Homo sapiens: one gene and its partners. The protein of the gene in region 3 binds, or shares a complex with, the protein of the main gene of each other region. Each region holds a gene or a part of one and is shown on either strand. Other genes may lie near its edges.

What was found.
Region 1: LSM8 (region 3) and SNRPD3 share a complex: the UniProt entries of both Homo sapiens proteins name them as parts of the U4/U6-U5 tri-snRNP complex.
Region 2: LSM8 (region 3) and SNRNP200 share a complex: the UniProt entries of both Homo sapiens proteins name them as parts of the U4/U6-U5 tri-snRNP complex.

The regions. Positions count from the first base shown.
Region 1 is NC_000022.11:24,565,911-24,569,564, forward strand, and holds part of SNRPD3 (small nuclear ribonucleoprotein Sm D3), read left to right. Parts: intron 1-2,073; coding exon 2,074-2,266; intron 2,267-3,654. UniProt on the Homo sapiens protein: Plays a role in pre-mRNA splicing as a core component of the spliceosomal U1, U2, U4 and U5 small nuclear ribonucleoproteins (snRNPs), the building blocks of the spliceosome.
Region 2 is NC_000002.12:96,295,393-96,299,046, forward strand, and holds part of SNRNP200 (U5 small nuclear ribonucleoprotein 200 kDa helicase), read right to left. Parts: intron 3,576-3,654; coding exon 3,423-3,575; intron 3,311-3,422; coding exon 3,211-3,310; intron 3,029-3,210; coding exon 2,892-3,028; intron 2,329-2,891; coding exon 2,245-2,328; intron 2,145-2,244; coding exon 1,971-2,144; intron 1,679-1,970; coding exon 1,541-1,678; intron 1,300-1,540; coding exon 1,144-1,299; intron 267-1,143; coding exon 96-266; intron 1-95. UniProt on the Homo sapiens protein: Catalyzes the ATP-dependent unwinding of U4/U6 RNA duplices, an essential step in the assembly of a catalytically active spliceosome. Plays a role in pre-mRNA splicing as a core component of precatalytic, catalytic and postcatalytic spliceosomal complexes.
Region 3 is NC_000007.14:118,201,017-118,204,542, reverse strand, and holds the end of LSM8 (LSM8 homolog, U6 small nuclear RNA associated), read right to left. Parts: 3' UTR 508-3,526; downstream 1-507. UniProt on the Homo sapiens protein: Plays a role in pre-mRNA splicing as component of the U4/U6-U5 tri-snRNP complex that is involved in spliceosome assembly, and as component of the precatalytic spliceosome (spliceosome B complex).

The DNA of each region.
Region 1 (3,654 bases), on a different chromosome or scaffold from region 3:
TGCTGGGATTACAGGCATGAGCCACCGCGCCCAGCCCCAAAACACATTTTAATTGTCAGTCAGATTCAGGTGAGCCTGAGTTGTATCCAGTTTCTGTCTTGGGTAGTCTGACCATAAACCTGGCGTTCATTTGTGGCACTAGAGGTTATGGTATTCTTCAGGGGAAGAAAAGGATTGGTAAGGACTTGGGAACTGGATGAAAATTTAATAACAGGCTGGGAGTGAGGAGCCTGGAGCAGAAGGTTTATGAGAAACTGGAGCCCTGTTGCCCCTGAAGGTAGAACAGGGATAGTGGGTAGAAGCTCTAGAAACCATTCCTCTAGAAACTGCTCATATACAACAGGGGCGGCCCCAGAGCATAGTTTTGTTTGTTTTATTTTTGAGAGGATCTTGCTCTGTGGCCCAGGCTAGGGTGCAGTGGCTCCATCACAGCTCCCTGCAGCCTCGACCTCCCAGAACCAAGTGATCCTTTCACCTCAGCTTCCCGAGTAGCTGGACTACAGGCACATGCCACCACACCCAGCTAATTTTTGTAGAGATGAGGTCTCACTGTGTTGCCCAGGCTGGTCTCAAACTCCTGGGCTCAAGTGATCCTCCCACCTTGACCTCCCAAAGTGTTGATATTACAGACATGAGCCACCACACCTGGCCCATAGTTGTTCTTTTCTGAGTGTTCAAGCAGAGGCTGGGTGGCCAGTTAGCACTTGAGGAAAAGAATGAATGAGTATAAGATGGCAGCTAGCCAGACAGAAATCTGCAGAGACAGCACATCTTTCTACAATAAGGGCTGACCCATTCTAAATAAATTATAGTTCTCTCTCTTCAGAAGGTTCATACAATAAGCTGCTTTTTCTGTAAATGTGGTGCTTGTTGAGGTTGATGCTGGCAGATTGGTATCACCCTCCCATGCCAAGCTGGTCTCACCTTCAGGCTCCCCATTTGTCCATCCTGCAGTCTATCCTTGTTGCCACATTTATCTTTCCTGAGTGCTGCCTTAACCCTATTGATCTTTCCTCTATCGACAAACTTGACTGACTCCTTTATCTGAAGTAACGACCCCGTCCAGTGTCATTATTCGACTGCTCTGGTCCTCACATCCTGTAGGCTCCTGCCCAAGTGCCTGCTCTTTTCCTTGTGCAAGCTCTTGCCTCATAACCCTCCAGTAATTTCAGGCCCTTTTTACAGGCCTTGTGGTACCACCTCCATTTCTCAGTCCCTAGTCACTCAACCTAGAGGGTTCTGTCTCACCTTCTAGAGTATGCACTCTGGAGGGTCAGAACCACATCTGGTATATACTTGTGACCTTCATGGTGCCTTTGAAATCTGAGTGCCAGGCAGTGCAGGGGAAGACAGTTTGGACCAGCAGTTTGAAGCTGTTTTCGTTAGGGTTTAGCACCTTCAAGAGCTCTTCACATCTTTGCTCAGCAGGCAGTGCAGCACAGCCAGGGCTCTGAAGCTAGGCCAGCTGGTTCGAATCTGGAGTTCCCTGCATTCCAGCTGTTTGACCTGGGATAACTGCTTTGGTTTTTTTAACATGTAAAGATGGGAGCACTCGGCTGGGCGCAGTGGCTCACACCTGTAATCCCAACACTTTGGGAGGCTGAAGCGGGCAGATCACCTGAGGTCAGGAGTTCGAGACCAGCCTGTCCAACCTGGTGAAACCCCACCTCTACTAAAAATACAAAATTAGCCGGGCATGGTGGCGCATGCCTGTAATCCCAGCTACTCAGGAGGCTGAGGCAGGAGAATCGCTTGAACCCGGGAGGCAGAGGTCACGGTTAGCCGAGATTGCACCATTGCACTTCAGCCTGGGCAACAAGAGTGAAACTCCATCTCAAAAAAAAAAGGGGGGGAGCACTCATACCCACGCTGAAGGTGTTGTGAGGACTGTTTAGGTAAAGTGCTCAGTGCAGTCCCTGGTGTACACAGTTAGTACCGATGATTGCTGGGTAATTCACCAGCTTTGTCACAATGTCAGTCTGCTTTTCTGGACTTCCCCCTCCCACCAGTCAAGGCCCTCCCCACCGCTGGTGCTGTTGACCGTTAACTTATTAGCTGGTGATTTCCTTCCAGATGTCCAACATCACAGTCACATACAGAGATGGCCGAGTGGCACAGCTGGAGCAGGTATACATCCGTGGCAGCAAAATCCGCTTTCTGATTTTGCCTGACATGCTGAAGAACGCACCCATGTTAAAGAGCATGAAAAATAAAAACCAAGGCTCAGGGGCTGGCCGAGGAAAAGCTGCTATTCTCAAGGCCCAAGGTAGGTGCTTTTCATGCACAGGTTTTAAAATATAGGTTTGTCTTGTGTCTTGTAGAAAGGGGCCCTATTACTGCCTGGAGACAGAGAGGGTTTGACCTCTGCTCTCTCCACACCCACCACCCACTGCCACCCCTTCCCCTTGCAGCGTGGAGTGATCCTGTGAGGCCATTATTTTATTTTTTTGAGACAGAGTCTCGCTTTGTCACCCAGGCTGGAGTGCGATGGTGTGATCTCAGCTCACTGCAACCTCTGCCTCCCAGGTTCAAGCAATTCTCCTGCCTCAGCCTTTCAAGTAGCTGAGATTACAGTGCGCACTGCCCTGCCTAGCTAATTTTTTTATTTTTAATTTATTTTTATTTTTATTTTATTTTTAATTTTTTTTAATTTTTTTATTTTTTTGAGATGGAGTCTCGCTCTGTCGCCCAGGCTGGAGTGCAGTGGCGTGATCTCGGCTCACTGCAACCTCCGCCTCCCGGGTTCAAGCAGTTCTCTGCCTCAGACTCCTAAGTAGCTGGGATTACAGGCACCCGCCACTGCGCCGGGCTACTTTTTGTATTTTTAGTAGAAACGGGGTTTCACCACCTTGGCTAGGCTGGTCTTGAACTCATGACCTTGTGATCCACCTGCCTCAGCCTCCCAAAGTGCTGGGATTACAGGCGTGAGCCACTGCGCCCGGCTTATTTTTATTTTATTTATTTATTTTTGTATTTTTAGTAGAGATGGGATTTCACCATGTTGGTCAGGCTGGTCTTGAAGTCCTGACCTCACATGATCCACCTGCCTCGGCCCCCTGAAATGCTGGGATTACCAGTGTGAGCCACCGCACCTGGAGAGGCCCATCTTTTCTAGAAGTTCTGTGTGAGAGGTGTGGGATCGCTTGCCCTTGTCTAGTTTGCCGAGCAGACACAGCCCGGAGCAGATGAGCTGACTCGAGTGTGAGGGCAGCATTTCCTAGCGAGACTGGGTCTTATGGATGGACACCAGCATGTACTTAGGGAGGTCTGATAGTGGAGCTCCGTTTTCAGAAATAAAGCCACCTTTTAGTACATTCCAAAAGTGGGACTGTCCTTTTCGCAGTCCCCTAGTCTGGTCTTGCTTCTTGGTTAGCCTAATTTGGTTTTATATTTAGGTTCATGAAAGTTCTGTCATGTTGATTAGACAACAAAGTAATTGTGGCCCTTGGAAACTGTCTTAGTGTTGGTAAAAAAGGTTTGCAGCCAAGGAAGGCACTGGATTCTTCATTGGTATCTTTAGCTGCTGTACATGTTTTATATGTGTGTGAGGAAAAAAGTCAAACTGTGTTTTTCCTCTGCTCTCACAACACAACAATCAACAAAGACTTCTGTGACCAAGCAAGCAGTCAGTTCTGCAGTAGACACCAGCTGGGT
Region 2 (3,654 bases), on a different chromosome or scaffold from region 3:
ACAGAAAAGGCAGCAAAGAAACATTTCGCATGAAAACCCAGCAAACCCGCCCTGACACAACTGGACTCTATATTCTACGACTGCTCCCAACTCACCAGAATGATGAGCCGCACCAGCTGGGTGTAGGTGCGCTCACCACCCTTGCGGGTGATGATGTCCCACTTCTCGGGGGTGCAGACGATGATCTGAGTGGCACTGATCTCTTCTTTGCACAGCTGGTGGTCCCCAGTCAGTTCAGCAACAGTGATGCCATAAGTGGCCAGGCGCTGTGGGAGGAAAACTACATCAGGCAGGAATGCTTGAAGGGGCCTGGACACCATGCTTTCTGTTTGGGCAATTGGAGTGTAGGGCATTGGGAGCAGGTATCAACCCATCAGGTGAATACAAGGCGAATCAGATCTTATGAACATATCTTCCTCAAACAAATCCAAATTTAACTCAGGCAAATAAAGCAGACAAAAGATCTCTGGGGGCCAGGCATGGTGGCTCATGCCTGTAATTCTAGCACTTTCAGAGGCCAACGCAGGCAGAATGCTTGAGCCCAGGAGTTCTAGACCATGGTGAAACCCTGTCTCTACAAAAAATATAAAAATTAGCTAATCTAGTAGTACATGTCTATAATCACAGCTACCAGGGAGGCTGAAGTGGGAGGATCACTTGAACCTGGGAAGTTAAGGCTGCAGTGAGCCATGATTGTGCCATTGCACTCCAGCTTGGGCGACAGCGAGACCCTGTCTCAAAAAAAAAGACCTCTGGGAACTCTGTACACAAGAGGAAGAAATGGCAACTTGTAGATAAGAAGACCTACAATACACCACTAGGTCTATTATCATCCACATCCATTTGATGTTTCATAAACACTTCAATAACACAAATGATACGAACTGCAGAAAATTGCCATGGAGAGGATGAAAGAAAGATGCTAACCCTTGTAAAAGATGGCTCAGGACATTCTTACTTCAGAAACTCTGTACCTGGGTTAAGTTCCATCTTGGAAATGGGGAGAGAAAAATAAAAAATAACAACAATCCCAGGAGGCATGCCAGAGATGCCCTAATACAAGAAGCGGTGAGGTCCAGGCCTGTCCACAACACTTTCATAGGTGCACCCAGTATCCTCTGCAGGAAAGTTCTACTCCCTCACCTTTCCAAAGCTGCCCACCATCTCCTGCACCAAGGAGCGCATGGGGGCAATGTAGATAATCTTGAAGTCATCCACATTGATGGTGCCGTCCATGTTTATGTGTTTCCCAATCTCTCGGAGCATGCACATCAGGGCCACGTTGGTCTTCCCAGCACCCTACGGGAGAGGTCAGGGATGAGAACGCCTATTCACCTGGTTATTCTCACTGCCCTAACTTCCATGGGCTTATTTCCCAAATAGAGAATAGAGCTTGTCCTGGGCACTTTATCCTACTATTTAACCTCTCTTCCATCAAAGGACAAAGAATTAGGGGGTGGGGGTGGAAATAAAAAACAATCTTGCAACGGAAACTCCACACCATATTCTACAAGAAAACAGCAGGCAGGGTGGCGCTTACAGTAGGAGCACACAGCAGCAGATTCTCATCCGTCTCAAGGGCAGCACGGTAGAGCTTACTCTGGATCCGATTCAGTGTTTTGAAGCCCTCAAACCCAGCCTGGGCATACTTTGGCAGCTTTTCCACTGGAAGCAGTTGCTAGAAGAAAAGAAGTGCCATCAATATCATGTTGGCAGCATCCTTGAGCAAAACGTTATTGTGGGATTGCCAGGATTTTGTTCCCTGGCAATCTCTTTGCATAACTTTCCATTAAAGGTCAGTCCAGAGATCAATATTGTCCCCTGGGCTCAAAATCAGAATGGGAAAATTCTGTTGCAGCTTTCAGCCCTGAAATAAACTATATATGAAACAAGGCTACATTTTGGTCAATGGTTGAAATCCAAACCAGGAGGTGAACTGAGCAGAGAACTGAAGAAAGCAATTCACTTACTTCTTCTGAGCCAAAGGGCTTGGGCTTCAGAGCAGGCACATGCACCTCTTCATAGCCCTTACGCTGGCGACGGAAGGATCCATCAGGAAGCTGACAGCGTTTATTGGCCATAAAGTGGCTCCCTTGGGTAAAAACCAGGTCCTCCAAGTCCAGAACCTGCCGTGGAGCCAGTGCCTGGGAATGTGAAAGACAAAAACACAAAGGAAGTAAGCAAGCCGAGCAAGTGAGTTTTCCATCCATCAAGGCCTGGGAAATAAATCGCCCTGGATCCTACCTCTCCACCCTGGTCGAGATCCATGGTTTCCAGATCTGTGTCCATTCGAGACTGACGCACTCGCTCTCTCCGGGACCTTTCCTCCTGTAGTGGACAAAGATAAAAATCACAAAAACAATTCATCAGTATCATAGGTTCTTGTCCTTTTCTGCCCCTGCTTAGCTAATACTTGAGTCACAGGTGCTGACTAGTAAGTCGTGAAACAGAAAGACAGTGCTTTACATGGGGACCACCAGAATGATCAAAGCAAACAAACACTTTTAAAGGGGCAATGCGCAGTACAAGGATGCCACAAATACACGTTCTATAATTAAGTACCAAGGGCTACCCCTGAGGGGTCGAAGGGTGGGTTCCATTAAGCAAGTACATGTGTTCTGTTACTCTATTTTAGTAAACACCATGGATTTACTGTGTAAATAAACAATAAAGGTCCCCACAGTGCTGGTGAAAGATAGCAGCAGGTCACTGGTCTCATGACCAAACCAATGTGGATGTGTTGATTCTAACCTGTATGCACTGATAAACCCCAAAGAATTTAGGAAATTACTTTTTCAACTTCCACTTTTAACATGAATTTAGCTTCATGCTGCAATCTTCTAGCCACCGTTAGCTCAGAAATCAGACAGATAAACCAACCCAGTCCTTACTCGGATCAGATCCTCCTTCTCGGTTTCATGAAGCTGGTAGAGGAACTTGGATAGCTCTGGGTCAGCTTCCATCTTTCCCATAATCCTTTCCTTTTCAGCTTCACTTTGTGCACTGGCCAGCAAGGTACAGTATAAAACTACCCACAACAAAAGGAACAAAGGAAGTGAGGAGGAGGAAATAAGGCAAAAAACCATCCTCAGGGTAGAAAGAAGAAAAATAAAAGAAACAAGCACTTAGGCTGTGAAAACAACAGAATCTCTATGTCACACATGCACACATATGTACTCACTCTGCAGGAAGACCCCACCATATACTCACTCATCATCCTGTGCTGCCGCAACACTTTAATGAAATCAAAGGTGTTGAAACCAAGCAGCAGAACCAGCTGATTTTCACATTCCCGATCATCACTGGCCGTCTGCAGAGAGCAGGTAACACCACCATTAAGGCCAAAGCCATCTGCCACTTCATACGCTGTCCCCATGTGCTAAGATACACTAAATATACAACTATTGTCATCTTGGCCATACCTTCAAAATCTCCAATACTTCATCTGCCTTCTTCTGCGACACGATGGCATCATCATAGAAACGACTGAGCTGCCGCTGCAGCCAAAATGCATCAATATCCCGAGGGTGCAAATCCTTCTTCTTGGAACTCATCAGTTCACCTGAGGCTACGAGCTATAAAAGTAACCAGGCATTTAGCTCACCAGGTCTCTGCCAGCCTCGATCACTTTGCCACCACCCTGCAACCAAGTTC
Region 3 (3,526 bases):
GTGTGTATATATATACACACACATTATATATACACTCTATATATACACTATATACAATGTGTAAACAGTAAATGTTATTGTGTATATATACAAAAATGTTACATATGTGTGTATGTGTGTGTATATGTATATGTATATATGAAATATTTCCTTTATCAAATCAACCACTCATGGACACTTAGGTTGGTTCTATGACTTTGCTACTGTGAATCGTGCAATGATAAGCATACACATGCAGGTGTCTTGTTTATAGTTTCATATGCTTTATTTTTTACTGTAGTAAATGAAAAATATAGCCCCATCAAACCAGAAAATTGAATCTTGCTTGAGGACAATAATTAAAATTCTTCTTAAATCATCAAAGTCCAGGGCTTCCTTCAAATGTAAACTTTTCTTTTTTAAAAAAGTGTGTCCTTGCTATTTTTACATACCATCCGTTATCCCCATAATTACATATCACCCTTAAAATATGGCAAGAATCTCAGAAAAAAACATGGACATTCTTAGTAGCCTCTGTAAAATAATTTATTTTTAGGTGTAATAATTAACAGCAATATATCTATAGTATTAAAATTTACAAATCATTGTTAGAACTGAGCAATTCATAGGTAACCAATAAGGGAGGAAAGGAATTAGAAAGCAACCAAGAAAAACAGCTGTAAGAATATGGAGATATTCTTCATATGCAATAAGGTGGCAAATTTATTCAAAAAAGCATGATAAATATAAAGGATGAGTATATTATAATATACATGTGCACATATTAAATGTTTGAAATCACAAATTATGATTTATTTTCTCAACTAAACTGTTACTATAGAATCATAAAAAGGAAGAGAATCTTGATGATTTTTCCATTAGAGTATACCATGTTAGATCTGGCAGATGACTTTTCACTTTTTATAGTGCTCCAAAAATTGGTACACTTCCCTTTGCCTTTTGGAGACATCACTGACTTTGATATTCAGAGTGGTAAAATCATGATATAAAAATTCTTGCCCATTGAAACTCAATTATCCTATTTACTTGATTTTTAGTCCCTTTCTTCATTTTCCTTATTTAGATATTAATCTCTACTAAACAACCATTACTCTATTTAAAAAATTTAAGTCTACAGCTTGAATAATCACAGCTCTATTAATATTGGATATTAGGACCTCCCCGCAATTTTTACTCCTATATGATATCAGAAATATTAGTATCTTCTTCAAGGGAAATGGGAAAATTATGTGAGTTTTAAAAGGGGTTTATATTTCTTTCTTAAATTAGTATTCAGAGTGCCCCATAATTCTGTTCTCATATAAGCATTTCTCCTGTACAATTTAAAATCTGTTTTTTGAGATTAATTTTTTAAATGAGTCTTCTTAGAACATCTTGCTTTGGAGTTTGGGAGTTAAATCCTTTCATTAAATGTTTAAAAAGAATATATATTCTGATGTCTTGGGATAGAACGTTCTATAAATGGCAGTTAGGTCAAGATGGATGAAAGTATTGTTCATGTCTTCTATATCCCTACTGATTTAAGGCTACAGTTTTTAAAGACTGATAGGGAGGGACTTGACGCCAGAATCCTGAAGGATAAAGTAAGGTAAAAAAGTGTGTAGAAAGACAGTATAGATCAGTGCTTCTCAAACTTTAATGTGCATATGACTCACCTGGGGAATTTATTAAAATTCATATTCTGCATTTTATATCAGAGATAAAAAAGAATTCTGTTTGGGCATAGAAGTTGTTTTCACCTGCCTCTGAGATACTTGCTTCTATACTAGCACAATGGCAGCATTGTTGGTTGTTCACCCCATCCCCATTCTTCTCTTTTTCCTAACAGCAACCCTTTTTTTATTTGGAGTGGCAAAATGTCACTATAAAAGGAAAAAAATCCCTCACCTTCCTAGCCTCCCTTGTAGTTAGGGTAACCATATGACAAAGATCTGGCCAATGGCATTCAAGCAGTATATTTTGCCAGTATAGTCTGCTGGTTATAGTTGGGAAAGCATTTATTTTTCCCATATGATAATCTCACTTTCCTATTTCATCTTTCTTTATTCTAATTAGATGGAAAATATGAGTCACGAGATGACAGGCAAATTATTAGAACAAAAGGATGGCAAAGAGAAAATAGTGGCCTGGGTACTGGGTCACTTCTTTGAGTAGGTGCCCCAGTCTGAACTGCCTTGCTTTTCACTTTTCTGTTCTTTTCTCTCGAGATAAATGAACTCCTCCTGCCTGTTAAAGCCACTGGCAGTCAGAGTTTCCAGTGCTTATAGCCAAATACCATTCTAACTGATGTACTCACCAATAATAATCGTAACTTCCTTTCATATGACACTTCATGGTTTCTTCATCAGCATTATGTGTGACACAAGCAAAAACAAAAACAAAAAAACTGCCAATGTATCTATTTCAAGACATCCCCAGAATTCTGTTATTAAATAGCATTGATGAGGCAGTCAGCCAGAATGTTTAAGCTGTCCTAAATTACTGCCTCCTCTGTGTTTAGGGAGTCTGCTCTTGGTCTTACAAGTCCAAAAGCAGAATATTACAAATTCACATAGAAGTGATCAGGATCTAGAGACTTGATTTATGCCATGCAGATTCACAGGGCATTTGTTTATAAAATTTGTGCTGGAAGATTACTTGTGAACTAGGGCCAAACCCTTAATTATGACTAGGGAAACCCAGAAGATAAAGTTGCATTAAAAGCCTGCTTGATGGAAACAGAAACATACAAAAGATGGCCTTACAGGGAAAAAGTTAAAGTGTTACCACAAATGTATACATGAAATGACCAATAATTTTATTTTATATTTCAAATAACTAGAATTGTACAGAGTTTAATTTTACAGCTTTAGGGCAAGGATAAACTCATTTTTATTTTTGCAGTAAAAGGTATAAATATTGAAAATTATGTAGGTTTAAAACTTTACTATGATATAGACACATTCTCAAATTAATGAATTTTACTGAGCTTTTTATATCAAACTTACTGATATTTAATGCAAAATAATAAATATTGAGATTCTTGGTTGTACATTATAAAATGCATCACAGAGCGATTTATTGATGCAAAGGAACCGTTTTGGCTCATGTAAGTGAAAAGTCTAGGAGTCACATCTTTAGGCATCGCTGGATCCAGGTGCTGAAATGATGTCATCAGGCCCAAAATGTCTCTTTATTGCTTGATTCTGCTTTCCTGAGTTGGTATCAACTAGGAGACTCTCTCTACATGCTCCATGGCAGCTCCAGGCTCACACATACTTAGTATTAAGATTTTCTCCTCTTCTTTAATATAAAGGAAATTCAGCTAGATGATCTTTAGTTCAAAATTCTGTGATATATAAATAACTCGAAATAACTGCTAACAGTTAATGAAACATCTGATTCAGTAAAGATAATGGTTATTTACAATTGAGTATTGCATATTAAAAAGTTCATTAAAGGTTTATTTTTATAGTTATTTCAAATTTGCCTTTTGCATTTTTAGTAACTATGAGTGATACAAGCAAAACTACAACCTAGCACAAGT